Homo sapiens: one gene and its partners. The protein of the gene in region 1 purifies or fractionates together with the protein of each later gene. This does not show direct contact. Each region holds a gene or a part of one and is shown in the gene's direction. Other genes may lie near its edges. The genes, in order: KPNA4, KIF22, MECP2 and POM121.

Region 1 (5,065 bases):
TGGGAAGGGCTTTTCTGTCTCTGAAATTGATTCAGTACAGTTGACAGTTCATCACGGTTACCTGGTTAAACACTTTTTTTTTTTTTTTAATTCTCCAGTGATCTAGGAAATTGTTTCATTTTTAACACAGGCTTATTTCTGATGGGGATGGGGGCATAGAATAATATGCCTAATAAGCTAAACGTTCTTAACGTTTCATGTCTTAAACTGTCTTTTTGAACATTGAGACCACCTCAAGTGCTGTAAAAATAAGAATGTTATATTAGGGGTGTGTGAGACGCCCTAGTCTAAAATCTATCTTTAAATATATTTCCTTTGTAATTTTCAAAGACTTCAGTAATTGTGTGTTATGGTGGAAATAATACTTTCCATTGGTCCACATTGCTCTGGACCAAACCTGGAGCATTTCTATAATTAGAGCTATCTATGAATCATTAAAAATGGATCTAGAATAATTTTGGGGAGAGGGAGTGTATCATTTAGTTTAGGCTTACCTCAGCAGCACTTCATAGGGTGAGGAGTTGTTTGTTTCTTTAAAGGTATAACTGCATTGTAAAATGACTGGGTTTATTGTAACAGTAATTTATGGGGGCACCCTTTTTGGATTCTCCATTGCCTCAGTTTCCTCAAGGAAAAAGTTACAGAGATTAAGCTAAATTTTGAATTTAGAGAATAACTGCTGTGTAATTTTGGTATAATTACCATAAATTTAGTGTCTTAAAACACAACATACATTATTTCACAATTTCTGTAGGTCAAGAGTGTAGTTAGGTTTTCTGCTCAGGGTCTCACAAGGCTGCAATAAAGGTGTCAGCCAGAGCTGCAGTCTTATCTGAAGCTAGGGGGTCCTCTTTTATGCACATATGGCAAAATCCATTGCCTAGCAACTGAAGAAATCATGGGAACTTCTTCAAGGCCAGCAAGAGAATCTCTGATCTCAGGGAAGGCCTTAAGCGCTTTTTTAAAGGTCTCACCTGATTAGATCAGGCCACCTACCCACCAGGGTGATCTCCCTTTTGATTAACCCAAAGCCAAACTGATGAGGTACCTTCATTACCCCTGCAAAATCCCTTCACCTTTGCCCTGCATTGTAGTCCAATCACAGGGGTGATACGCATCATATTCAAAGATCCTGTTCACAGTCAAGGGAGGGGGTTATATGGAGTATGTATACCAGGGAATCTTGGGAGCCATCTTAAGAGTTCTTCCTATGACAAGGACTCAACTATTTAGAACTGGAACAATTTACAAGTGATAGCCTTATATAGTTATCATAGCAAGCTTATTTGGGGATCAAGGTTGCCTCTGAGAACCTAATGAAAACTGGACCAGCTTCCCCAAAAAGTGTATATACATGGTAGTTTTTCATACAGTTTTAGGGGATTCATAAGAGTCCATGAATTACAGTCTGTCCCAACCCTTCCCTTTAGATGATGAGTTGTTGAGGTGACTTGCCCAAGGTCACACAGCTACTAAGGGCCAAATAAAGCCCACATCTCAACTCCCATACTGCCCAGGGCTTCTAATTACTATTCTAAAGGTAATCTAAATTCATTTAAATTTGTGAACCAATGCAAAAAAATGTGAATGTAGCTTTTTGGATATTTTTTTTGTTTACTAAGGAATGGGTAACATTGTTATAGAAGCTTGCCTAAGAGTTTTGAAATTAGTTGACCTTTTTGAGTTTCCAAAATTGAATCTTCCATTGTAGCTATTAAAGTGAACTATAAATAGGCCAACTTTAATTGTTAACTCCTCGGGTTTGGTGGATTATCTACCATTTATATATAAAATTTCAGTTAGAATCCACCATTGGCGTTTTGAAGGCCAAGATAGCTGAGTATCTTATCCTTTTTGTAACTTCTTGATTATTTTACTTATTGGCAAAATTCATTAACTGTCAGCCAATAATTTAATATTATGGGAGGAAAAAATTTTGCCCAGATATCTGAGGCAATACTCCCAAACACTAACAAACTGATGCCTAACAAACTTGACATTTTGAACACTTAAAGTTTTCCCTAAACTTTTTAATAAGCACATTAATAAAGTATGCTTTTAAATATATATGTACAATAATTTTTAAAAGTTGCTGCAAGATGCCTTCAAATCAATATGCACGTTGGTGGCATTAGTGCAGTCTTCTATTTTTATTTTTTTGAGACACAGTCTCGCTCTGTGGCCCAGGCTGGAGTGTAGTGGCGCAATCTCGGCTCACTGCAACCTCTGCCTCAAGGGTTCAAGCAATTCTGCCTCAGCCTCCTGAGTAGCTGGGATTACAGGAGTACGCTACCACGCCTGGCTAATTTTTGTATTTTTAGTAGAAATGGGGTTTCACCGTATTGGCCAGGCTGGTATTGGAATCCTGACCGCAAATGATCTGCCCACCTCGGCTTCCCAAAGTGCTGGGATTACAGGCGTGAGCCACTGCGCCCAACCAGCCTTAATTCTTAATAAAGGAAGTTGAAAAATAATGAACATTGGTAAAACTATTCTAGTGTGATCAGAAGCAAATTTGGACTGTAGTGTCAAATTGATAAAAAACTAAGCACACCAATCATGTATAAGAAAAGTAGATTTAACATTTTTTTCCCTAAACACTTAACCCAGAAGTTAACAATAATCTTGAAAATTCCTTTTAAATCCAGGCCCTTTAGGTGATGGCAGTTTGACTCAGGATGTCCAAGTCCAGTGTATTTTCAATAAAATTGACTTGACAGCTACTGCTCTGGGTGTAAGAGCAGTTGACTGTGAGGAAAAGTAAATGGTTCTACAGATTCTTTATGATCTACCTCCCACCAGAGGACTGCAGTACTCCCTTGTTATTTATATTTTCTGCCCCAATTTTTGCCTTCTCCACAAATTTTATACCTTTTGTAGCTGCCTACTCCAGATTACTTCACCTTTCCAGACTATCAGTTCTTCCACTTTTATTCTTCATAAAGAAAATTCCAATAACCTGTTTCACTTAGGTTTTTCTATTACTCTTCAAGCATGAATCCTAATTTCCCTGACTATATCTTACCTCTGATCTCCATAACTGATGGATTCCTATCCTAGACTATGTTACTCTAATATTACCCAAGATTTTCTCCAGCCTGTTTTTACTCTTACTTTGAAACAGCTGTTTAAAATGACTCGTAATCTGCTTAAATCTACATGCTTTTTGTGGTTCTCAATCCAGTTACCTACCTTCCAGATAATTCCCTCACTGTCCTGTCCTCTCCATTCCTCTGATGTTTAAGCCCTGTGAGCCACCTTTCCCCCATCCTTTGTGCATAGTTACCATTTTACTCTTTCTTGTTGCCCAGGCAGGAATGCAGTGGTGCCATCTTGGCTCACTGCAACCTCCACCTCCTAGGTTCAAGCGATTCTCCTGCCTCAGCCTCCTGAGTAGCTGGGACCACAAGCGTGCACCACCACGCCCGGCTAATTTTTGTATTTTTAGTAGAGATGGGGTTTCACCACGTTGGCCAGGCTGGTCTCGAACTCCTGACCTCAGATGATCCACCCTCCTTGGCCTCCCAAAGTGCTGGGATTGCAGGCGTGAGCCACCGCCTGGCCACCATTTTACTCTTTTTAGGTACAGTAATCTAATATCCAAAGTCTTGGACTCAGCTAAAGAGGGTATTTACCTTAAAAAAAAAAAAAAAAAGACTCCATCTTTTGATTCATAATTGTGGTGGGGGCGGGGAATCAAGACAACCTTAGTCACTTTGGTATTACCATAATTCTTGTCTTTTCAGGGTTGTCCTGTTCAGCTGCATAAAACATCATGTATTCTAGGTATTTCCTACCTTCACTTACATTTTTACTTGCCGATGTGCTGCCTTCATAAATGGGTATATTCCGCCACACATCTAGTAAGCCCCCAATGCAGTACACAATGTGTATCACTGATAAAACTCGCACTTCTGCCATGTCAGTATTATATTCAGTTGAGTGGTCTTTAGCATAGTGGCAGTCCTAGTCATCCTAACCTTTTAGTTAAGGTAAAATTACATATGTTTATAGAACTCATATAGACAAGCTAGTTTTTAAAATCTTCCTTTTAACCAGTTTAGGATGATCTAGGATAGCTAAGTTACCTACATGGTGACTGTTCGGTCTAATTCAGAAACAGAAGTACTAAAAGAATACTAAAAAGTTTTTACCCATTATCTCTATCCCTGTTTTCTTTTTGCAATTCTCAGCTGCAGGGAGCAAGAAAATACACAGCAGATAGGAAATGTTTGTTTGCATCCTGGCTTTCTCAACCGCACTTTACGTCCTTGAATATTCTAGATATTTACTCCTTCAAGAAGTCAGGAGTATATCCAGGCCTACCTATCATCCTTGCCATCCCCATTAACCCTCATTTTTCAGTATGTGTTTTACATTTATGGTTATTTTTCAGTCTATAGTATCTGTTCACTCATTGCTCTATCACATCTGAGTTTCTCCGTCTTTCTTTCCACTAGATTGTAAGCTCCTTAAGGGCAAGGTCGGCATATAAGCAAAGTTCTGTAAACACCGTGAAGGTACCATGAGTTCTATGGGTACTCAATAAATGCTTGTGATAATGATGCAATTTCTCAGATGAACTGATTGTAGTGACTACCTCTAAAAGCCTTCAATCTACAGTTTTTAAATTTGTCTCATTGCATCTGAGTTTTAGAAAGCCTTCGATAGAAAGGGAAGATACTTCATAGCTTGCCAGATGAATGCCCATTTCCTTATTTCCTTTTCCTCACTTTTGATATTTTGCCCAGTGTCTGGTCTGGATATCTGACATCCATAAGGGTATTGAAATGGATCCTTGTGTGGTTTTCAGATACCAGTTATATATATTATGAAGCAGAGGTAACCTAATATTGTCTAACACTATTGATACAGTTTATATTTTGGAAATACTGTATGGATGATTTATTGAAATAACTTATAATAAGATATTTTACAAGGAAATATCCAAACCACAAAGTTAAGTGATTGCTGTTTTGGTCAGTCAGCTATAGTATGAAATTATTAGAATGCTTTGGTTTATTTATGTATGTGAAGTTATTTTATCCCTATGTGCTTCAGTTTC
Region 2 (7,784 bases), on another chromosome or scaffold:
ACTAATTATTATTATTATTATTTTATTTTATTATTATTATTTTTTGAGACGGAGTCTCGTTCTGTCACCCAGGCTGGAGTGCATCACTGCAAGCTCCGCCTCCCAGGTTCACGCCATTCTCCTGTCTCAGCCTCCCGAGTAGCTGGGACTACAGGCGTCCGCCACCACGCCTGGCTAATTTGTTGTATTTTTAGTAGAGACGGGGTTTCACCGTGTTAGCCAGGATGGTCTCGATCTCCTGACCTCGTGATCTGCCCGCCTCGGCCTCCCAAAGTGCTGGGATTACAGGCATGAGCCACCGCGCCAGGCCTAGACCCACTAATTATCTTTTATGGCACAAACTCTATGTTTTACTTTTGCCCAGGCTGGAATACAATAGCGGCATGATCTCCGCTCACCACAACCTAGCCTCCTGGGCTCAAGTGATCCTCCCACCTCAACTTCCCAAGTAGCTGGGAGTACAGGCATGCGCCACCACACTTGGCTAATTTTAAAATGTTTTGTAGAGAAGGGTCTCACTAGGTTGCCCAGACTGGTCTTGGACTCCTAGACCCAAGCTATCCTCCCACCTTAGCCTCCCAAAGTGCTGGGATTACAGGAATGAGCCACTACATCTGACCTCCTTTGCTTCTTTTAAAGACATAGTTTGGAATTTTTTTTTTTTTTTTTTTTTTTGAGACAGAGTCTCACTCTGTCGCCCAGGCTGGAGTGCAGTGGCGCCATCTCGGCTCACTGCAAGCTCCGCCTCCTGGGTTCACGCCATCCTTCTGCCTCAGCCTCCCGAGTAGCTGGGACTACAGGCGCCCGCCCCACACCTGGCTAATTTTTTGTATTTTTAGTAGAGACGGGGTTTCACCGTGTTAGCCAGGATGGTCTCAATCTCCTGACCTTGTGATCCGCCCATCTCGGCCTCCTAAAGTGCTGGGATTACAGGCGTGAGCCATCGTGAGCAGCCTTTTTTTGAGGAGTCTCCAACTGTCACCCAGGCTGGAGTGCAGTGGTGCCATCTCGGCTCACTGCAAGCTCTGCCTCCCGAGTTAACGCCATTCTCCTGCCTCAGCCTTCCGAGTAGCTGGAACTACAGGCACCCGCCACCACGCCCAGCTAGTTTTTTGTATTTTTAGTAGAGACGGGGTTTCACCGTGTTAGTCAGGATGGCCTCGATCTCCTGACCTCATGATCTGCCTGCCTCAGCCTCCCAAAGTGCTGAGATTACAGGCGTGAGCCACTGCACCCGGCCTGGAAGTTATTTTTTAAAAATCAATTGTTTCTTTCTCTGTCATCCCAGCAGGAGTGCACAGGCATGACCTCAGCTCACTGCAACCTCCACTTCCTGGGTTCAAGCGATCCTCCTGCCTCAGTCTCCCAAGTAGCTGGGACTATAGGCACATGCCACCACATCTGGCTAATTTTTTTTCTTTCAGATGGAGTCTTGCTCTGTCCCTCAGGCTGGAGTGCAGTGGTGCAATCTCAGCTCACTGCAACCTCCAACTCCTGTGTTCAAGTGATTCTCCTGCCTCAGCCTCCTGAATAGCTGGGATTACAGGTGTGTGCCACCACGCCGGGGTAATTTTTGTGTCTTTAGTAGAGACAGGGTTTCCCCATGTTGGCCAGGCTAGTGTCAAACTCCTGACTTCAGGTGATCTGCCCGCCTCAGCCTCCCAAAGTGTTGAGATTACAGGCATGAGCCACCACGCCTGGCCAAACCACCCTAATTTCTACCAGCCAGATGCAGATCCTTAAAACAACCCTAGGAGGTATTTCAACCATTATTCCCTTTTAATATCTGAGGAAATGGAGGCACAAAGAGGCTAAATCTCTGGTCTGGGCAGCCTGGCACCAAGGCCCTGTACCTAAATGGTTTATTCAAACATAGAAGCCCTATCTCCTTGATCTATGCTCTTTTCACTATTTCTGGCAGGTTTCTTACCAAATATCTGGAGTTGACAACAAATGTGAAAACTGAACAGCCTTTTCTGACAGGCAAGGAAGACCAAACTGCCAATTGCCAATGTCAGATGTTCTCAAAGTATGGTCCAGAGACTTCTGGGAGTCCCTGAGACACTTTCAGTGGGTCTACAAGTTCAAAACTATTTTCATAATAAAACTAAGATACCAATTGACTTCTCTTGCATTGTTTCTCAAGTATATAGTGGAGTATTCAAAATACTATATTATATGTGACATCACAACAGCATGAATGCAGAAGCAGATATGAGAATCTAGTTTTTTTGTGTGTCTTTGAGACAAGGTCTCCCTCTGTCACTGAAGCCAGAGTGCAGTGGCACCATCACGGCTCACTGCAGCCTCAAACTCCTGGGCTTAAGCAATCCTCCCACCTCAGCCTCCCAAGTAGCTGGGAATATAGGTGTGTGCCACCATGCCTGGCTAATTTTATTTTTTAAGAGATGGAGGTAGGCCAGGCACAGTGGCTCACGCCTGTAATCCCAGCACTTTGGGAGGCCGAGGCGGGTGGATCACGAGGTCAGGATATCAAGACCATCCTGGCTAACACGGTGAAACCCCGTCTCTACTAAAAATACAAAAAATTAGCCGGGCGTGGTGGCAGGTGCCTGTAGTCCCAGCTACTCGGGAGGCTGAGGCAGAAGAGTGGCGTGAACCCGGGAGGTGGAGCTTGCAGTGAGCCGAGATGGCGCCACTGCACTCCGGCCTGGGCCACAGAGCGAGACTCCGTCTCAAAAAAAAAAAGAGATGGAGGTCTAGGCAGGGCTTGGTAGCTCACGTCTGTAATCCCAGCACTTTGGGAGGCCGAGGCGGATGGATCACCTGAGGTCATGAGTTCAAGACCAGCCTGACCAACATGGAGAAACCCCGTCTCTACTAAAAACACAAAATCAGCCATGCACGGTGGTGCATGCCTGTAATCCCAGCTACTCGGGAGGCTGAGGCAGGAGAATTGCTTGAACCCAGGAGGCGGAGGTTACGGTGAGCTGAGATTGCGCCACTGCACTCCAGCCTGAGCAACAGAGAGAGACTATGTCTCAAAAAAAAAAAGTGCACACCTCTCTGGTTTTTAGTATGTTTATTACGTTACGCAGCCATCATCACTACTTCATTCCAAAATATTTAATATTTCCATCACCCCCAAAAGAAACTCGTTATATCTATTGCTGTAGTGCCAGCTCCTCAGCCCCTCACCATCCCCTGGCAACCACTACTTAGATGTCCTTTTTATGTCTATGGGTTTTTTACTGTAATTTTTAAATTCATTAATGTCAACTTTAATTTAGTTTCACTTCACACACAGTATATACGGCCAGGCCTGGTGGTTCACACCTGTAATCCCAGCACTTTGGGAGGCCAAGGCGGGTGGATCACTTGAGGTCAGGAGTTTGAGACCAGCCTGGCCAACATGGTGAAACCCTGTCTCCATAAAAATACAAAAATTAGCTGAGCGTGGTGGTGCACACCTGTAATCCCAGCTACTCGGGAGGCTGAGGCAGGAGAATCACTTGAACCCAAGAGGCAGAGGTTGGAGTGAACCGAGATTGAGCCACTGCACTCTAGCCTGGGAGATGGAAGTGAAACCCCGTCTCAAAAACAAAAAAACAAAAACCCTCATATACACAAAACATCTTTGGAGGCCTCATTTTTAAAAACTGTAGTGGGATCCCAAGGCAAAACGTTTCAGAAACACTGATCTAAGATTTGTGTTTTTTGTTTTGAGACGGAGTCTCACTCTGGCGCCGTGGCTGGAGTGCGGTGGCACCATCTCGGCTCATTGCAACCTACACCTCCCGGGTTCAAGCGATTCTCCTGCCTCAGCCTCCCGAGTAGCTAGGACTACAGGCGTGCCACCATCCCCGGCTAATTTTTGTGTTTTTAGTAGAGACGGGGTTTCGCCATGTTGGCCAGGCTGGTCTCGAGCTCCTCACCTCAGGTGAGCCTCCCGCCTCAGCCTCCCAAAGTGCTGGGATTACAGGACTGAGCCACCGCGCCCGGCCCGTGTTTTGTTTTGTTGTTCAACAGGGTGGAACATAATGTCTAAACCTGGGCCCTACCTACCTGGTGCTCAAAAGTGGAATGACCGTCCCTAGCCAACCCTTCAGAAAGGACAGAGAGCTACTCAACGGACTGCTGTACTCTTAAGGACTGGGAACCGGAACCGTGGGTGAGTGGGACTGAATCACAGACTAAGCGTTTTCCACGCTTCGCCGACGTGCTGAGTGCCAAGTTATAAAGACAGGAACATCCAAGCTGCTCTCCTGGGCTGACACGGACGCGAGGGGACCTACAGTGGCCTTGGGCCCAGCAGGCAGCGACTGCAACGTGACTGCCCAGAGTCCAGCCCCTGGGGCCCAGATCTACAGAACCGACCAGACGTGATAGCCCTTTGGCTGGGGCTGCAGTCCCACGATCCACACAACGACCCTGGCTCCGCAGACGCGCCAACCACCCACGGAGGCAAGAAACTGCAGAAAGTAAAGGGAAAGGGAGCCCAGTGCCGGGCGGCGCTGAGCAGCTCCCCCAGCGGCCACCGTCGCCAACATCCCTGCGTAGGGGTTTGTATCGCAGCGCGCTTCCAGACATCAACGGCTGCGCGGCCCACGCGCGCGCATGCGTCCTGACCAGGGGAACCTTTTCTTGGGGACCCGGAGGCGAGCGCTGGAAGGCGGGATAGTGGCGACCCACACGCAGCAGCTTCCGGCGGCGCGTAGTCTTGATTGGTGGAACCTGGGAGAGGGGGCGGGGCACCGGGGAATTCGAATGGGAGAGGCGGGCCCAAGGAGGGAGTGGAATGGCCGCGGGCGGCTCGACGCAGCAGAGGCGACGCGAGATGGCGGCAGCTTCAGCGGCGGCGATCTCAGGTACTTGAGCCCGGCCTGGGCAAGGCGGGTACCGACGTCTGGAGTTTAGTGGGAGTTATGTGTCGGAGTGTGGTCCAGGCTCTGCGGGTTGTCGCGGAGAGGCGGCCATGGCGCAGGGGCGGGGAGAGGGGGACGGTGAGAGTGTGGGGTCGCGAGCCGGTCGCCCCGCCTGGCTCCTGCCTTCTCCCTGTTTCCTGCTCTCCCCTTGGGTCAGTAGACTCGGGTCTCCGGTCCAGGCTCTTGGCTTGAACCCCGCGCACTTTTTCTTTGTGAGCTTCGGTTTCTTCGTCTGTGAAACGGGGGTCATGGCCTCATCCCTGGAGATCACCTGAATAAGCAAGAGAAGAGTGGCGGACGCTCTAGCCACGAGGACGAGAAGAAGGGAGCCGGAGGCGTGTATTGGGAAGGGTTCTGTGTGGGACATGGTGTTTGGGTGCAGAGACATCCCTGAGAGATGCAAGAGGACGGGCTGAGGAACAGACCCGGCTGCTGCTGGGTTTGAGTTGGCAGCGTAAGATGCTCTGCGATTACAGGAAAACGAAATAAAAGACTAAAATTTCCTTTCACTCTAGCATGGAAGTGAATGCTATTTTAGGGTTGGAAAGGCTGTTAGGACACCCAAAATCTTGTATGTGAGTATTTGTTTACATGTGCCTCTCTAACCCGGAGACTTAATCCTCGTTAGTGATGATGGTGAGCGCCATAGTAATTCACTGGAGCCCTCGTTAGCCTCGTGGGGAAACAGACATTTAGGAGAATGCCTAACACATGTAGAGCTCTTGCTATGTGCCAGGCACAGTTGTAGGCATTTTATGGTGGTGAACCATTTATTGTCCACACAATGCTATCAGGTTGTTACTATTACTGTCTTTGTTTTACACAGGAAACTGAGGTTAGTTTGTTCAGAGTTAACACAACTAGTAAATATTGGGGCTTGAATTCGCTCTCAAGGAGTCTGAGTGTAGAACCTCTGCTCTTAACCATTATGCCCAAGTACATGTTATCCCTGCTGGCTGAGCACAGTCTCCCCTTACCCTTCGAAGATGCACTGTGTCCGGTGCATGGTAGATATGAAAATGCCTGAATGAATAATGTCCCTTCCTCGAGGAATTTACAGTCTGTTTCAATAGAGTGTCACATACGTAGATGTAATACGAAACACAATGAGAGATGTGTATAAACTGAGGGTGTGGAATCTGAAGTAAGCCCTTGAGTATTCTGGGAGGACTTCATTAAGGGAGTGAATGATACTTGAGATGGGTTTCAAAGGTTGGATAGGAGTTTGCCAGGCCTTGACTAAGAAGACAAGAACAGCAAGTGTTTTCTTATTTATGATGTAAGATGCTCTCTTAGCTCAATTTCCTCATCAATAAAAGGGAGAAGAGTGAATGAAATTTAGGAATTGTGAAAGAAGGGAAAATTAATAATTGCTAGCCTGGTCCAAGCTCAAGGTTGCTTTTATCATGAAAGGGCTAGACTCTTGTGCAGTAAATAATTGTTTACATGTGGCCCTCCCCTCTTCCCTCCTACCCTGGACTGTGAGCCCTGGGGCAGGAATGGCCGTGAGCCATTTTCATGATGGAAATGAACAAGCCAGTGATTAGTAGTTTATTCACTAAATCTTAATTTTTTTCAGCAAATACTTCTTGAGGGCCTACTCTGCGCCAGGTGTTGGGGTTAGAAAGGTGAGCAGGATAAAACTTGTTCTCACAGTTGGCAGTCAGGTGGAGAAAGTGACAAACACGCAATAGTGGGGTGTGACAAATGCTTATGGAGGGGCTAACATGAGCTGTGGTTGCACCTGATAAAGCCTTAGTGTCTACCAGGAAAGGGTTTTTGGTTTTGTTTTTTAAGAGGAGTTAAAATGTGTTTACCTTAGTCACTCCAGGGTGGGGTGGGGAGCAATGCAGATATTCTAGGGAGAGAGATTAACGTGGACAAAAATCCAAAGGTGCAAGAGAACTTGGAGTTTTGTAGGAAGTGAAGGAAATTCATCATGACTGGTAACTTACACTGCAAGGAAGGAAACAGAGGGAATGACTAGAGGGCAGGGAGACACCTTGCTACCACCAGCAAGGAAGGCTGTAAAGACCATGACCTTGGGCAGAGGTAGTGCAGTGGGAGTGGAGAGAAGTGGACTTGTTCAAGAGAGATTTAAAGAGATAGACTTGACAGATGTTAATGATGAACTGATGTGGGAGGTAAGAGACGTTGGAGTTAAAGACTCCCACTTTTGGGGTTGGTGCCATTCATTTACATCAGAGATCAAAGGAGGAGGCTGCAGAGAGATGGGGAAGGAGGGTTCAGTTTAGGACAGGTGGAGTTTAAGAGGAGCCGTCGGCTGGGCTCACGCCTGTAATCCCAGCATTTTGGGAGACCAAGGTGGGTGGATCACGAGGTCAAGAGATCGAGACCATCTTGGCCAACATGGTGAAACCCTGTCTCTAAAATTAATCAAAAATTAGCTGGGCGTGGTGGCGTGCACCTGTAGTCCCAGCTATTCGGGAGGCTGAGGCAGGAGAATCGCTTGAACCGGGAGGCGGAGATTGCAGTGAGCCAAGAGCGCCACTGCACTCCAGCCTGGCGACAGTGAGATTCTGTCTCAAAAAAAAGGAGCCGTCAGGGCAGCCGTTCAGAACGTGGGCTGCAGTTGAGAGCTCTTGTGCAGAACGTGCAATAGGACTTATCAGCTGTAAGATGTTACTGAAGCCAAGAGGGCGGGTGACCTGCCTATGAAATGAATCTGAGTGGTCTCAGCTCGGGGCAACTTTGTCCCTCACAGGACATTTGGAGATGTCTGGAGAGATTTTTAGTTGTTACAACTTGAGGGTGAGGGTGGAGAATGCTACTGGCATCTAGTAAGCATATGCTAACAGTCTAAATGCACAGGACAGCCCCACAACGGAATTAGCCAGCCCGAAATGTCAGTAGTGCTGAAGTTGAGAAATGCTGGTC
Region 3 (7,079 bases), on another chromosome or scaffold:
CTCTGTCACCCAGGCCAAAGTGCAATGGCACGATCCTGGCTCATTGCAGCCTCAAACTCCTGGGCTCAAGTGATCCTCCCACCCCAGCCTCCCAAGAAGCTGAGATGACAAGTGTGCACAACCATGCCTGGCTAATTTTTTGTTTTTTTAGAGACAGTGGTCTTGCCATGTTAACCAGGCTGGCCTTGAACTCCTGGACTCAAGTGATCTTCCCACCTCGGCCTACCAAAGTGCTGGGATTACAGGTGTGAGCCAAGGTGCCTGGCGAGATTTTTCCCATATACCTGTTGGTCATTTAAATGTTTTCTTTTGAGAAATGTCTATTCAGGTTTTTTGCCCTCTCCTAACCTTTTATTTTATCTATCTATCTATCTGTCTGTCTGTCTGTCTGTCTATCTATCTATCTATCTATCTATCTATCCATCCATCCATCCATCCATCCATCCATCCATCTATTTCGAGATGGAGTCTCGCTCTGTCACCCAGGCTGTAGTGCAATGGCACGATCTCGGCTTACTGCAACCTCCACCTCCCAGGTTCAAGCGATTCTCCTGCCTCAGCCTCCAGAGTAGCTGGGACTACAGGTGCGTGCCACCACGCCCGGCTAATTTTTTTTTGTATTTTTAGTAGAGATGGGGTTTCACCATTTTAGCCAGGATCATCTCAATCCCCTGATCTCGTGATCCGCCTGCCTCGGCCTCCCAAAGTGCTGAGATTACAGGCGTGAGCCGTCGTGCCTGGTCACCTTTTTTTTTTTTTTTTTTTTTTTAAAGACAGGGTCTTGCTTTGTTGCCCAGGCTAGAGTGCAATGTGCAATCATAGCTCACTGCAGCCTCAAACTCCTGGGCTCAAGTGATCCTTCCACCTCAGCTTTCCAGGGAGCTGGGACTACAGGTGTGTGCCACCACGTCTGTCTAATTTTTAAATTTTTTTTGTAAAGACGGGGTCTTGCTTCTTGCTATGTTGCCCAGGCTTGTCTTGAACTCCAGTTCTCTGATTTTTAAAAAAAATCATAAGTAGATGTTGAATTTTATCAAATGCTTTTTCTGCATCTATTGAAATAATTATGTAGTGTTTTTCCCCTTAAGTTTGTTAAGGTTGGGTTTCTAATTTTAAACCATATTTGCATTCTTAGGATAAAACTCAACTCGGTTGTGATAGATCATATACTGCAGGATTCAGTTTATTTGTCTAGAATTTTAAAACTTATTTCCACATCTTGTGTCATACTTTTCTTGGCTCATCATAGTAGATATATTAGTCTAGTAAAATAAGTTTGGAGACATTTATTTCTTTTCTGTGTATGATTGGAATTGCCTACTCATTAAAGATTTGGTAGAAGTCATCCATAAAGCCCTCTTGGTCTGTTTCTCTCTCTCTCTCTCTCTCTCTCTCTGTGTGCGTGTGTGTCTGTGTGTGTCTGCGTGTCTGTGTCTGTGTGTAGGAGGATGGGTAGCTTTTTAAATACATAGTCAATTTCATTGTGGTTACAGGGATTTTCTGTTTCTAAAGTCGGTTTTGGTAAGCTGTACTTTCCTAGGAATGTATTCCTTTTGCTTATGTTTTCAAATTTACTGACACACAGTGCATAATAAAACCTTTTCATGAGTAACATAATTTACTTTTCTCTTTTCTCTTTATATCCAGCTTGTTAGAGGGTTGGCTTTTGTTTTTCAGCTTTTCAAAGAAGCAGGTTTAAAATTTTCTCAATCCTCTCCATCATTTGTTTCTATTTCATTAAGTTTTATTCATCCTTATTTTTCTTTCTTCTACTTTTGCAGGCTTACTCTGTCATTTCTTTATGGCTTCTTGAATTGGATGTTCAGCGTGATGACTTTTGGACTGCTTTAGCCGCATCTCTATACTTCAGCATCGCACACCCAATGGCTTACTCAACATCTCCACTTTCACACCACTGGGCACCCCAAGCTTAATACAGCCAAAGCAGAACTCTTGATCTGCACCTCTGAAAATGTACTTTTCCTGTAGTTCTCCCCACTATGGTGAAAAGCACCCTTATTTCCCCAGTTGCTCAGGCCCCAATCTCAGGAATCATCCTTGTTTCTTCCCTTGCTCTATGCCCTACATCCAATCCTTTTGTTCAGTTCTGAAAACATATCTTGAATCTCACAACTTCTCAGAGCTGCACTGCTGCCACCCTAGTTAAAGCTACCATCAACTCTTTCTCCTAGACTGTTCCAGGGCCTTGCAACTAGCCTTGTGCTGTAGTTTTGTTTCATCACGTCCAGTTCTCCACTCTACACCTGCAACATAGATCAGACAGCTCCTGGCTCAAAATCCTCTGAGGGCTTCTCATCTTAGAATAAACTCTCGGTTCTGGCCGGGTGCGGTGGCTTACGCCTGTAGTCCCAGCACTTTGGGAGTCCGAGGCGGGCGGATCACTTGAACTCAGGAGTTTGAGACCAGCCTGGGCAACATGGTGAACTCCCATCTCTATCAAAAATACAAAAACTTAGCCAGGCGTGGTGGTTCGCATCTGTGGTCCCAGCTACTTAGGACGCTGAGGAGGGAGGATCGCTTGAGCTCAGGGTGGACGTTGCAGTGAGCCAAGATTGCGCCACTGCACTGCAGCCTGGGTGACAGAATGAGACCCCATCCCCACCCCCCCCAAAAAAGAATGAACTCCCAGTTCTCATAGTGGCCCCAGCTGCCTTTCCAATCACATTCCCTACCACTCTCCAGCAACACTGACTTCCTCGTTAGTCCCCAACATGCCAGGCATAGTCTCTCCTCATGTCCTTTGAACTTGCCTGGAATGTTCTTTCCCCAGATATTCATATGAGGGAGTAAAATGAGGGTGAAAACCAGCAGATATCTAAATAGCACCCCCTTCACTTAGTTTATCTTTCTCAAAGCCCTTATCACTATGTGAAATGATATATTATACTTATTTGTATGCTAGTATGAATCTTCCCGGCAAGAATGTTAGTTTGCTGTCTGTTCAGTACCGTGCATCCAGAGCCTGGAAGAGTGCCTGGCACATAGCAGGTAGTCAATAAATGAATGGGGGCAAGCAGCCAAATCAGAATCAGGTTTTCTTGCTAAGCATAGAACTAACAGAAGGATCATTGAATGGATTGGATAATGACTGGCATCAGGGTAAGGTCCCCTTAACAAACACTCCTGTCCTGAACACCTGGTTAGCTAACAGTTTTCTCATACTCTTATTTTCCCAAAACACAATTGCTGGATCTCAGCTCCAAATCAACTCTTCTAGGAAAGTGAAAAATTGCTGGATCTCAGCTCCCAAATCATATCTTCCAGGCAGAGCTAACATTGCCCCTTATTCACACCTCCACCAAACCATCTGATCCAACAGTGACAGGTGTCACGAGGCCTTGGCATGCACTCTCTTCCCCCGCCAGAGTTCTGCGAAAGCCAGGGTTGCGATTTGTTGTCAGTTTATTCCCCGCCTCTATGAGAGTGTGAGCACTGGGCAGGCTCGGATGAAATAATGCATTGAGTAGGCCTCTGAAACCAAGGCCCCTCAGCTGGGGCAACGTCAGGCTCCAGGGTGGGCAACTTTGCTGCTTCTGCCGAAGATAGTGATATTGAGAAAATGTGGGTGCAATGAAACGCTTATTGCAGCGCACTCGGTGCATCTGTGGACAGAGGGTCAATCGCCCCTCAGAGCAGCGCAAACAGGCGTCCCAAGCCTAGGCCTTCACTTGCCCCAGCATCCGCAAGGGTCCATTAATCCTTAACATTCAAATTCCGCCCACTAAACCAGTCCCTCCGCGCCCAAGCCGCCTCTTTTCCCCAAACGACGGCCGAAAGCAGCCAATCAACAGCTGGAGGGGTCCGCCCCCTTTTCCCTGGCCGAAATGGACAGGAAATCTCGCCAATTGACGGCATCGCCGCTGAGACTCCCCCCTCCCCCGTCCTCCCCGTCCCAGCCCGGCCATCACAGCCAATGACGGGCGGGCTCGCAGCGGCGCCGAGGGCGGGGCGCGGGCGCGCAGGTGCAGCAGCGCGCGGGCCGGCCAAGAGGGCGGGGCGCGACGTCGGCCGTGCGGGGTCCCGGCGTCGGCGGCGCGCGCGCTCCCTCCTCTCGGAGAGAGGGCTGTGGTAAAAGCCGTCCGGAAAATGGCCGCCGCCGCCGCCGCCGCGCCGAGCGGAGGAGGAGGAGGAGGCGAGGAGGAGAGACTGTGAGTGGGACCGCCGTGGCCGCGGGCGGGGACCCTTGCCGGGGGGCGGGGGTCAGGGGCGGGACGTGGCGCGGGAGGGGCCCGCGGGGTCGGACGACACGGCTGGCGGATGGCGTCCCTCCTCTCTACCCTCCCCCTCCCGCCGCCGCCGGTGGCGACTCTCCCCTCGGCCCGTCACCCCTGCTCGCGGGTGACCGTCCTCGGCGCGGCCTCCCTGGAGCCGCCTTCGCCTGACGCCCCTCTTCCTCCCGCCCTCGACGCGCATCCCGGCCCCCGGCCCCGCGGGCGCCCCTGTCGCCGGGGCTTCGCCTGTCGGGGCTGCGCGCGCTCCTGCCCTTCTCGGGGCTTTGGGCCGCGGCGCCGTCGCGCGCCCGCGGCCCCGGCCTCTCCCTGGATCGCGCTCTCCCCCTCCCTCCCTCGCGCGCCCCCTCTCCCGTTACTCGGCCCCCCCACCGGCGCGCGTGCGCACTTCGCCTCCCGTCGGGAGAGTGCGCCACAAGGGCTCCTGAGCTCTCACCCCCATCTCTGGGCTTTGCCTCCCCCTCCTTCTCGCCCATTCCATGAATTTCTGCCCCCCGCTACCCCCCCGCGAGCGAGTAGGTCCACCGGCTCCTTTCCCCATCTAGCAGGAACAAGTAGGTGGGGATTATTATCCACAAAAGGGACTAGACATTGTGTTCTGGGTCCCACAACTCATCATAAAGAGGTGGTTATAGTTCCCATCAGGAGCCGTGGGTAGGGGACTGTGCGTCCAGCAGCACCCGAGGCTCTTCGGCGCCAGAGGCTCTAAGGTGCGAGCGTGTCCCCAGGGTGCTCAGAGGTTCTTTGGAGTGCTGTGGCCTCGGAATGTGAGCACCCTCCCATCCTACCCTCCCCTTCGCCGGCGATCTTCCAGTTACATAAGTGGAGTGGGACATAGTAGGTAACGGGCTCTCATCGCCCTGGAGCGCTCGGGATCACCGGTACCAGATGGGGCAAGTTCATCGCGACGCTGTGGCTCCTGTTAATTGTGCCTGAAAGGTTATCCTCTGTTCAGTTTGGTCATGACCGAATCACCCAAACTGAAACTCAGATGACTTTTATATGGCAGTGGCAATGTTTCTGTGGTTTTGCACTAAAGACTTAAGGTCATTATGAAGAGTGTAAAAGGATTGCTGTCGCAGGGGAGACCGTTTATGACATTGCTAAGTATGGACCCCGAGGGGGAAAAAGCTCATTCTGGAATTGCTCTGTGGCGGTTGCTTCTGTTGCGAGTGTGTTCGGGTGTGGGTTGGTCACAGCAGAAATGGGCTCCACCACAAAATTGATATTCCTGACTCATGGTCAGGCAGATGTGTGCTTCTGGTTATTTTTCCAGGAACAGGAATGGGCTCTGCCGAGCCTTTCACACGTTGTGTCTCTGCTGTGCGGGATCAGTACCCCAGACTGTGAGATAACAGGATCGAATTCAGGGGTTGGTTGGTGATCCAGGAACCATACCTACTTGGATGTGATACTGAGTGGCCTAGACGTTGTAGGACTCTCATAAGTTTTAGACATTTTGTTATACTGTAAAAATGAAGCATATACGGCCTCAGTAGTAACATTGCACTAATAGGTAATTATTACTCTAGAGAATTTTGGGTTCCATGGCTGGAATGTTCATCAGTATCTCAGCAATTTCAGTTAATAACCAGATTAAGCTGACCTCTTGAGTCTTTTGAAATCTGCTGGGTCCCTATAATAAGACAGGGTCTGGATTTTTTAATCTTTTGGGAATTTCCACCAAGGATTTAGGGAAATAGGCTTTTATGGGCTTTTCAGGATTTCTATTTCAAATCCCAATGAGGAAGTCTAGGAAACACTTGCTTTTATTTTCTTGCCTGAATATGTCAGAACCTTAAATCACCCAATCAATCTAGAAGTACTACAGTTGATTAAAGTAAGTCACCACAGGTCACCCATTCGTGGCAGGTCAGCTAGGTGGCTGATCACTGGAATACAGTCATATCCCCAGGCATACACACGAGCCTCACTTGACGATCCCAAAGTTTGTACATCTGAGCTTGAGACGTGACAAGTTGAGGTCTCTGCTTTGTTCTTCATAGTTGGCAGTTTGTCTCCTCGGGTGCCCCTCCGGTTAGCTGTTTATCATACGTCTAGCCCTATCAACAGTGCAGGCAGCTTCCAGAGTATAGTTTTCTCTGCAAAGTGCCTGGTGGAGGGGTACCTCCTTTTCCATTGTCCTAATGGCTCCACTGGGCTTCCATACCAGCCCTTTCCAGTGTCTTAACAGCTCAAAGAAACCCATCTGTGGCTTTCTTGTTAGCACTGGCCTATCACACCTTCCTATTGCCTGTTAACTAAAATTTTGCCTGGAATGCTTTAAGCTTAGAGTACTGGGTCTTTGTTTCACCCGATTGATAGGAGAGTGTCATGCAGTCAGCCGAACTCCGACTTCTGTGCTGTTTAAATCCTTAGGTAGGTCTGGGGCAAGGCACAAACCACTGTGTATTCAAAGGGTTATGGTGCTTGCATTCTGTGTGTATATGTTTGTAATTTCCAACCAGAGTCGTTTCCCGTGCCTGCCCTGCCTCTGTGCAATCTAGTCTAGTAGGGTAGGGAGGCAAGCTGTGGAGTTTGAAAAAAAAAAAAAAAAGCTAGATGAGTTTAATAGGCTGTTACCCCCTCCAGAACATTCCTCCCATGTGGAGATGAAACGAGAAGTTCATTTCTTTAACCTAAAATAAAGAACAACAGAGATAAAATTGTTAGTTCCTTATTGGAGCCTGGTTTCCATTGCTAATGTACCTGCTTGGGACTCTGCATGATAAATGACGTGTCCTGGAACCTGAAATCTTTTATAAAGGTTAATATCAGCAGAAATCTTTTAATTAGCTAAGAGCAGCTTGTTCTCAAGCTGCCCGAGTT
Region 4 (7,038 bases), on another chromosome or scaffold:
TTCATCTACTGATTACTTTGGATGGAATTAACATTGTTACAATATTGACCTTGTTTACTTCTAATCTATGAACATGGAATGTCGTTATTTATTTATTTAACTTTTGAGACAAGGGGTCTTGCTCTGTGGCCCAGGCTGGAGTGCAGTGACATGATCATAGCTCACTACTGCCTTGAACTCCCAGGCTCAAGCGATTCTCCTGCCTCAGCCTCTTGAGTAGCTGGGACCACAGGCATGCATCACCACACCTAGCTAATTTTTAAAAACTTATAATAGAGACACAGTCTCACTATGTTGCCTAGGCTGGTCTCAAACTCCTGAGCTCAAGCAATCTTCCCACCTTGGCCTCCCTGAGTGCTGGGATTGTAGGCGTGAGCCACCATGTCCTGCCTCCTTCATTTATTTACATCATCTCTATTTCTTCTCTGTAGAGGTTTTACTTCTTTTTTATTAGATTTACAATCTCGGCTCACTGCAGCCTCCACCTGCTGGGTTCAAGTGATTCTCCAGCCTCAGACTTCCGAGTAGCTGAGATTACAGGCACGTGCCACCACACCTGGCGAATTTTTGTAGTTTTAGTAGAGACAGGGTTTCACCTTGTTGGCCAGGCTGATCTCAAACTCCTGACCTCAGGTGATCCACCTGCCTCTGCCTCCCAAAGTGCTGAGATTACAGGCGTGAGCCACGGCGCCTGGCCCTAGGTATATGCTATTCTAAATAGTGCCTTCATATATGCTATTCTAAATAGTGCCTTCAAAATGTGATTGGCTGTGCTGGTGTGTAGAAATACAACTGATTTTGTATTCAGAAAGTTTGCTAAATCTGTATGTTCTTTAGGATTTTAGTACATACACTCAGGTCTATGATAATGAGTTTTTCCTTTCCTCTGCAATCTTATTCTGTTTATGTCTTGCTGCACTTGGCTAGGACTTTAAGTTGAATAGACATGATAATAAACATCCTTGTCTTGTTAGATCTGAAATGAGTGTGTATGTACAGTCAATGAAGTAGAGGAGTAATACTTTTTTCCCCTAATTGTTAAACCAGTTGTTCAGTTGTCTTCCAGTCCTAGCTAATCATTACAGTCTCCTTTGGCATTTCTGTTTTTTCTTTATTTTTTCTTGGTAGAGATGAGACTTCACTATGTTACCTAGGCTGGTCTCAAAACTCTTGGGCTCAAGTGATCCTCCCACCTTGGCCTCCCAAAGTGTTGGGATTACAGGCATGCACCACCACACCTGGCTAATTTTTGTATTCCTTTTTTTTTTTGAGACGGAGTCTTGCTCTGTCTCCCAGCCATTCTCCTGCCTCAGACTCCCAAGTAGCTGGGACTACAGGCACCTGCCACCACACCCGGCTAATTTTTTGTATTTTTAGTAGAGACGGGGTTTCACCATGTTAGCCAGGATGGTCTCAATCTCCTGACCTCGTGATCCGCCCACCTTGGCCTCCCAAAGTGGTGGGATTACAGGCGTCAGCCACCGTGCCCAGCTTGTTTTTGTATTTCTAGAAGAGATGAGGTTTCACCATGTTGGCCATGCTGGTCTGGAATTCCTGACCTCAGGTGATCCTCCTGCCTCAGCCTCCTGAAGTGCTAGGATTACAGGTGTGAGCCACCTCGTCTGGCCCCTTTGGCATTTCTGACCCTTGCTTGCTCAGTGATGTGTATCCCTCAGTGTCTGGAGCACATTGTGAAGAAAAATGCAAGGTTTATGGTTTTTATTGTTTTAATTTTATTACTTTAACTACAGGTAAGGTCTTGCTATGTTGCCCAGGCTGGTCCGAAACTCCTGGGCTCAAGCAGTTCTCCTGCCTCAGTTCTGAAAGTGCTAGGATTACAGGTGTGAGCCACCGCACTCGGCCATCTATGTGCTTTTAAAGTTCCACAGGTGGCTAGGTGTGGTGGCTCACGCCTGTAATCCCAGCACTTTTGGAGGCCAAGGCAGGCAGATCACGAGGTCAAGAGATCAAGACCATCCTGGCCAACATGGTGAAACCCTGTCTCTACTAAAGATACAAAAATTAGCTGGGTGTGGTGGCATGTTCCTGTAGTCCCAGCTACTCGGGAGGCTGAGGCAGGAGAATCGCTTGAACCAGGGAGGCGGAGGTTGCAGTGAGCTGAGATCGCGCCACTGCACTCCAGCCTGGTAACAGAGCAAGGCTCCGTCTCAAAAAAAAAAAAAGTTCCACAGGTGACTGAGCCGTCCTTTGAGAACCAGTGAGGTAGTGTCAGGGATCTGAAGTGATTGAAAATGCCGCTTATATATTCAATCCTTGGATCCCTTTGATGAATTTTTGTATTCTGCTCTTTTATATGCCTGTAATCCCATGTTTTTTAAACCATTGTGCTCTGGCCTTTCTTGCTGTTTGAGCGTAACTTCAACTGTTATTGCCGTGAGCAGTCTTCTCAAGCTCCTCCTGGGCCCGGCTTCCTGATGGTGGCCTCACTGAACTGTTCTGCTGCTTACCACTTGTCTGAAGCTTCCTCTTTTCCCTTTTTGAACTCTTATTAAGCATTGCTGGCTTCCTGTTTGTACTTATATGATGTAGCTGGTACTGGGTAAGAAATCACTAGCAGCTTTTCAAGTAGGAAAGACGGTCTGAGGTGACAGTTTAGTGGCTTTGTAATTAGGCTCAGCACTTACGAGACTATTTGCAGTGTCCGCTCTGTGCCATCTACTTTGCTGCTGGTCTGTGGAGGAAGCAGAGATGAAAACACCGTCTTTGCTGTCAAGAACTCACCTGGTGGAAGAGGCAGATGTATGGATAATCATCACATGATGATAAATGCCATCGTTGTTGCAAAAGTCATAAACGTTACGACAGCATATTTTTAAAATGAAGTTAGTAAATTAAAATAGAAAATTTAATAGAAGCAAGACTAAATTAGTTTACTGGGTTATCTTCTTTAATTTACTTCTATCCTCTCCGTAGACAGTCTGGCACAGGTTTGAATGTGTCCTGGCTCTTCATTACTGAGGCTAACGTTCCACCTAATATATGCAAAAGTGTGTCCATCCCTTCTACCTTTATTCGCATTCCATTACTTTTATAGACTTTTCTTCTTTTGCTTTCATAATTAATACTGGCAGTTGACTTTCTTTTCAGGGGTCTTTCTTCACAAACAAATTTTTTTCATTTTCTTTTCTTTTTTTTTTTTTGAGACAGGGTCTCACTCTGTCACCCAGGCTGGAGTGCAGTGGGGCAATCTCAGCTCACTGCAGCATCCTGAGTAGTTGGGACCACAGATGCAAACCACCACACCCAACTGATTTTTCAGTTTTTTTGTAGAGACAGGGGTCTCGCTATGTTACCCAGGCTGGGCTCAAATTCCTGGGCTCAAGCGATCCTCCCACCTTGGCCTCCCAGCATGCTGGGATTACAGGCATGACTAACCATTTAACCATAAAGAATGTTTTTTTAGTCACTTGAAAAGAGACTTTGTCGTGTTGAGGGTCAGATGCTAAGTTATCAGCAGGCTCAGTCATGTCCCTCTTGATTTTTAGCTCTGGAAGAGAAATGGCCCCAGTTCATCACCCTTCTCTAGCCCAGCCTCCTCCCGCTCCCAGACACCGGAGAGGCCAGCAAAGAAAATAAGGTACTTGGCATTCTCCTGCAGTTTTCATTTGCTGCGTGGACAGGCGGGGGTGAGGAAAGGTGGGAAACGAACCTGGCTCTTAGGCTTTGTGCTGCTGTGACTTGGAGAATCAAAGAAACTTAAGTCCCTGAGAGGTACAATGCAGTACCCACCCGAAGTGCTGTCATCCCTACAGTCTTGGATACTGACTCCAGTGGCCTCTGGCTGTCGCCTCCCACTCCAGCATGAGGGATCGGGTGCAAGCACAGAGGCCATGCAGAGTGGAGAGCAGAGAGAGTCAAGTCAGCGGGCAGTCGCCTTCAGGTTCTTGACTCGAGCTGACCCCCTAGGTGCTTGCAGTTGGCTGGAATGCCACTCCCTCAGGGATCACATCTGTGTCTAGAACTCCCAGGGACTTGATAGGTTGTAAGTAAGGTTTGAAGATTATTGTTTTGTGCTTGTTTTAAGACAAAAGCTGTCTTCATGGCCTCTGTGAACAGCCTCCCTTCATTCTGTTGGAATTTCCTGTTGACTTTTTTTATCCTGGCATACTGAGATCTTAAATGATGGTTGTTTTAGACATTGGCCACTTGGTAGTTAGGAGGGTGTGAGAAATTATTTAATACTTCAGCCAAGAAGCCTTTCTAGACTAAATTGTTCCTTTTTTCCTGACAGAGAAGAGGAGCTGTGTCATCATTCCAGTTCTTCAACTCCATTGGCAGCAGACAGGGAGTCCCAGGGAGAAAAGGGTAGGTTGCTGAGCCAGGAGGAGGGGCTGCTGTTGGTGGTGGAGGTGTTTGTGGAGGATGTAGAGATTAATACCTATTGAAAAAAGGTCTTGAGCATTGCTATGTCTAAGGCATGTTAGATACAAAGAGAGAGATTTCCTCTCCTTCAGAAGTTTATAGTCTGATGAGGGAGAAAGGCTACAGACAGGGACTAACGATTGGATAGAGGTAAGCTCAGTTTGAGTCACCTGTGGGTGATCCCAGTAATTACTGCACAGTAAGCGGTTTGTGTGCGCGCCTTAATCTTGCAAACACCATCCAAGCAACCAAACCATAGAAGATTGAATCTTTTCAGAGATACCCATTGAAAACTCAATGTGAAATGCGAAGTGGGTAGACACAACCATCCATTTCTGGAAGAGGGAAGGAAGCAAACGAGTCTTGATTTCTTTCTTTAGCTGCAGATACAACCCCAAGGAAGAAACAAAACTCGAATTCTCAGTCTACACCTGGCAGCTCTGGGCAGCGTAAGCGGAAAGTTCAGCTGCTGCCTTCTCGGCGAGGGGAACAGCTGACCTTGGTATGGTCTTGTCCATCTACTCCTGCCCTCCCCGGCTTAGCTCTCCTAAGTATTAGGAACGCTAAGGACAAGTTTCTTCTGATTTTTTTTCTAATTTATTTTTGTTTTTGTTTTTTGAGACAACATCCCTCTGTCACCCAGGCTGGAGTGCAGTGGCTCGATTTTGGCTAACCGTAACCTCTGCCTCCTGAGTTCAAGCAATTCTCCTGCCTCAGCCTCCCAAGTAGCTGGGATTACAGGTGCTTGCTACCACGCCTGGTTGATTTTTTGTGTTTTTAGTAGAGATGGGGTTTCACCATGTTGGCCAGGCCGGCCTCAAACTCCTGACCTCAAGTGATCCAGCTGGCTTGGCCTCCCAAAGTGCTGAGATTACCGGTGTGAGCCACCATGCCTAGCCTTCCCGTTTTTTCTGATTGGCCTGACTTCTTCTTTTTCACTTTGGTAGCCTCCACCTCCCCAGCTTGGCTATTCGATCACTGCCGAGGACCTAGACTTAGAGAAGAAGGCTTCATTACAGTGGTTCAACCAGGCCTTGGAGGACAAGAGCGGTAAGGAGCACAGATTGTTGCACACTGGAGAGGTTTCAGGTGTCTGTTTTCTTTGGTTTTATTTTGGTGTTTGAAAAAATGGGTTTCTCTGGGAAAATCCCAAGTAGGGTTCCATGTTTTCTTGTGGTCTTTCTCACCTGAGATATCCGTGTTGGTCTTCACGGGAACTGGACAGCAGGGACCACTGCAATTGAGGGCAGGCATTCCTCCATGAGCTGTGCTGAGAGCCTGCTCTCCGACAGGCATGTGGAAAGAAGTCCCAGACAAGCCAGGACTGCTTCACCTTTCTTTCTTTCTTAGATGCTGCCTCGAACTCTGTCACTGAGACCCCACCTATCACTCAGCCTTCATTTACCTTTACCCTGCCTGCTGCTGCACCTGCCTCCCCACCCACCTCCCTCCTGGCCCCAAGCACCAACCCACTGTTAGAGAGCTTGAAGAAGATGCAGACTCCCCCGAGCCTGCCACCCTGCCCAGGTGAGCTGGAGTGGGGCCGTGGATCCAGCCTTCTGAGCAGCATCCCCGGCTTGAGTTGGAATAAGGGCGTCGTGCCTGTCAGTCGCTGGAGATTGCTCTGCAGGCCGAACGCACCCTGGCTCAGCACACCGGAGCGGGCCCACGTTTAACAGCGCCAGAGCCCGCATCAGGAAGTGTTAGAGAAGGGGTGCTGCGACGCTCAGGATCTGAAGCCTGGCTCGTAGCTGCCCTGAGCCTCGCCTTCCTCATCTGTCAGATGAGAATGATCTTCCCTGTGCGGCACCTCTGAAGTGTGAATGTGGTGGCGTGGTCAGGATATCCTTGCCTGTCAGAACCACTGGTCCAGAACAGCACTGCTTCCTTTCCCTCCAGCACTTCGAGGGCTGCTGGTGTTCCCGGCCCAGGCCTTCACGGCACTGCGCGCGCACACCTCTTTATCAGACGGTAACCTGGGGTTCGTACGCACCCTCCCTGCTCAAGGGCAGAGACTTCCCCATTCATAGTTGTGTGCTCTTAGCGCCTGGCAGGTGAGCTTAGTAGGCAAATAAAGTATATCTAGATTCATACGTGAACTTCAGAGTTCAGACAATTGGACTGTCTTAGTCTCTACACATTAGGCCCCCATTTAGGCCCCATTTTATCCCCTTCTGTCTGATGATCTGTGAGGTAGAAATAACACTTCCTTGATTTACTGTACAGGCCTGTAGTGTAGACTTAGCTGAGTTTATTGACTGACTCTTGGATCCCAGGCTCTGTGGTAGGCGTGGGGAGGACACTGAAATACTGAATACCATCATCTTTGAAGTGTTTATTCCAATTTCACATTTTCTATTCTTCTTCCAGAATCTGCTGGAGCAGCAACCACTGAGGCCCTCTCACCTCCAAAGACACCCAGCCTCCTACCCCCGCTGGGTTTATCACAGTCAGGGCCGCCAGGGCTGCTCCCCAGCCCCTCCTTTGACTCCAAACCCCCGACCACTTTGCTGGGGCTGATCCCTGCTCCATCCATGGTACCAGCCACTGACACCAAGGCACCTCCAACCCTTCAGGCAGAGACGGCTACCAAACCCCAAGCCACATCTGCCCCGTCCCCCGCCCCCAAGCAAAGCTTCCTGTTTGGAACACAGA

Evidence for each region.
Region 2: the proteins of KPNA4 (region 1) and KIF22 purify together in Homo sapiens (affinity purification with mass spectrometry; 4 studies listed by BioGRID and IntAct, with this or other methods). This does not show direct contact.
Region 3: the proteins of KPNA4 (region 1) and MECP2 purify together in Homo sapiens (affinity purification with mass spectrometry; 4 studies listed by BioGRID and IntAct, with this or other methods). This does not show direct contact.
Region 4: the proteins of KPNA4 (region 1) and POM121 purify together in Homo sapiens (affinity purification with mass spectrometry; 2 studies listed by BioGRID and IntAct, with this or other methods). This does not show direct contact.

The regions. Positions count from the first base shown.
Region 1 is NC_000003.12:160,494,507-160,499,571, reverse strand, and holds the end of KPNA4 (importin subunit alpha-3), read left to right. Parts: 3' UTR 1-4,565; downstream 4,566-5,065. UniProt on the Homo sapiens protein: Functions in nuclear protein import as an adapter protein for nuclear receptor KPNB1. Binds specifically and directly to substrates containing either a simple or bipartite NLS motif.
Region 2 is NC_000016.10:29,786,001-29,793,784, forward strand, and holds the start of KIF22 (kinesin-like protein KIF22), read left to right. Parts: upstream 1-4,750; 5' UTR 4,751-4,759; coding exon 4,760-4,829; intron 4,830-4,967; exon of another isoform or gene 4,968-5,221; intron 5,222-6,465; exon of another isoform or gene 6,466-6,514; intron 6,515-7,784. UniProt on the Homo sapiens protein: Kinesin family member that is involved in spindle formation and the movements of chromosomes during mitosis and meiosis. Binds to microtubules and to DNA. Plays a role in congression of laterally attached chromosomes in NDC80-depleted cells.
Region 3 is NC_000023.11:154,094,694-154,101,772, reverse strand, and holds the start of MECP2 (methyl-CpG-binding protein 2), read left to right. Parts: upstream 1-4,055; 5' UTR 4,056-4,107; coding exon 4,108-4,169; intron 4,170-4,803; exon of another isoform or gene 4,804-4,960; intron 4,961-4,991; exon of another isoform or gene 4,992-7,079. UniProt on the Homo sapiens protein: Chromosomal protein that binds to methylated DNA. It can bind specifically to a single methyl-CpG pair. It is not influenced by sequences flanking the methyl-CpGs.
Region 4 is NC_000007.14:72,935,084-72,942,121, forward strand, and holds part of POM121 (nuclear envelope pore membrane protein POM 121), read left to right. Parts: intron 1-3,506; coding exon 3,507-3,598; intron 3,599-4,252; coding exon 4,253-4,326; intron 4,327-4,763; coding exon 4,764-4,885; intron 4,886-5,330; coding exon 5,331-5,433; intron 5,434-5,733; coding exon 5,734-5,910; coding exon of another isoform or gene 5,911-5,928; intron 5,929-6,753; coding exon 6,754-7,038. UniProt on the Homo sapiens protein: Essential component of the nuclear pore complex (NPC). The repeat-containing domain may be involved in anchoring components of the pore complex to the pore membrane. When overexpressed in cells induces the formation of cytoplasmic annulate lamellae (AL).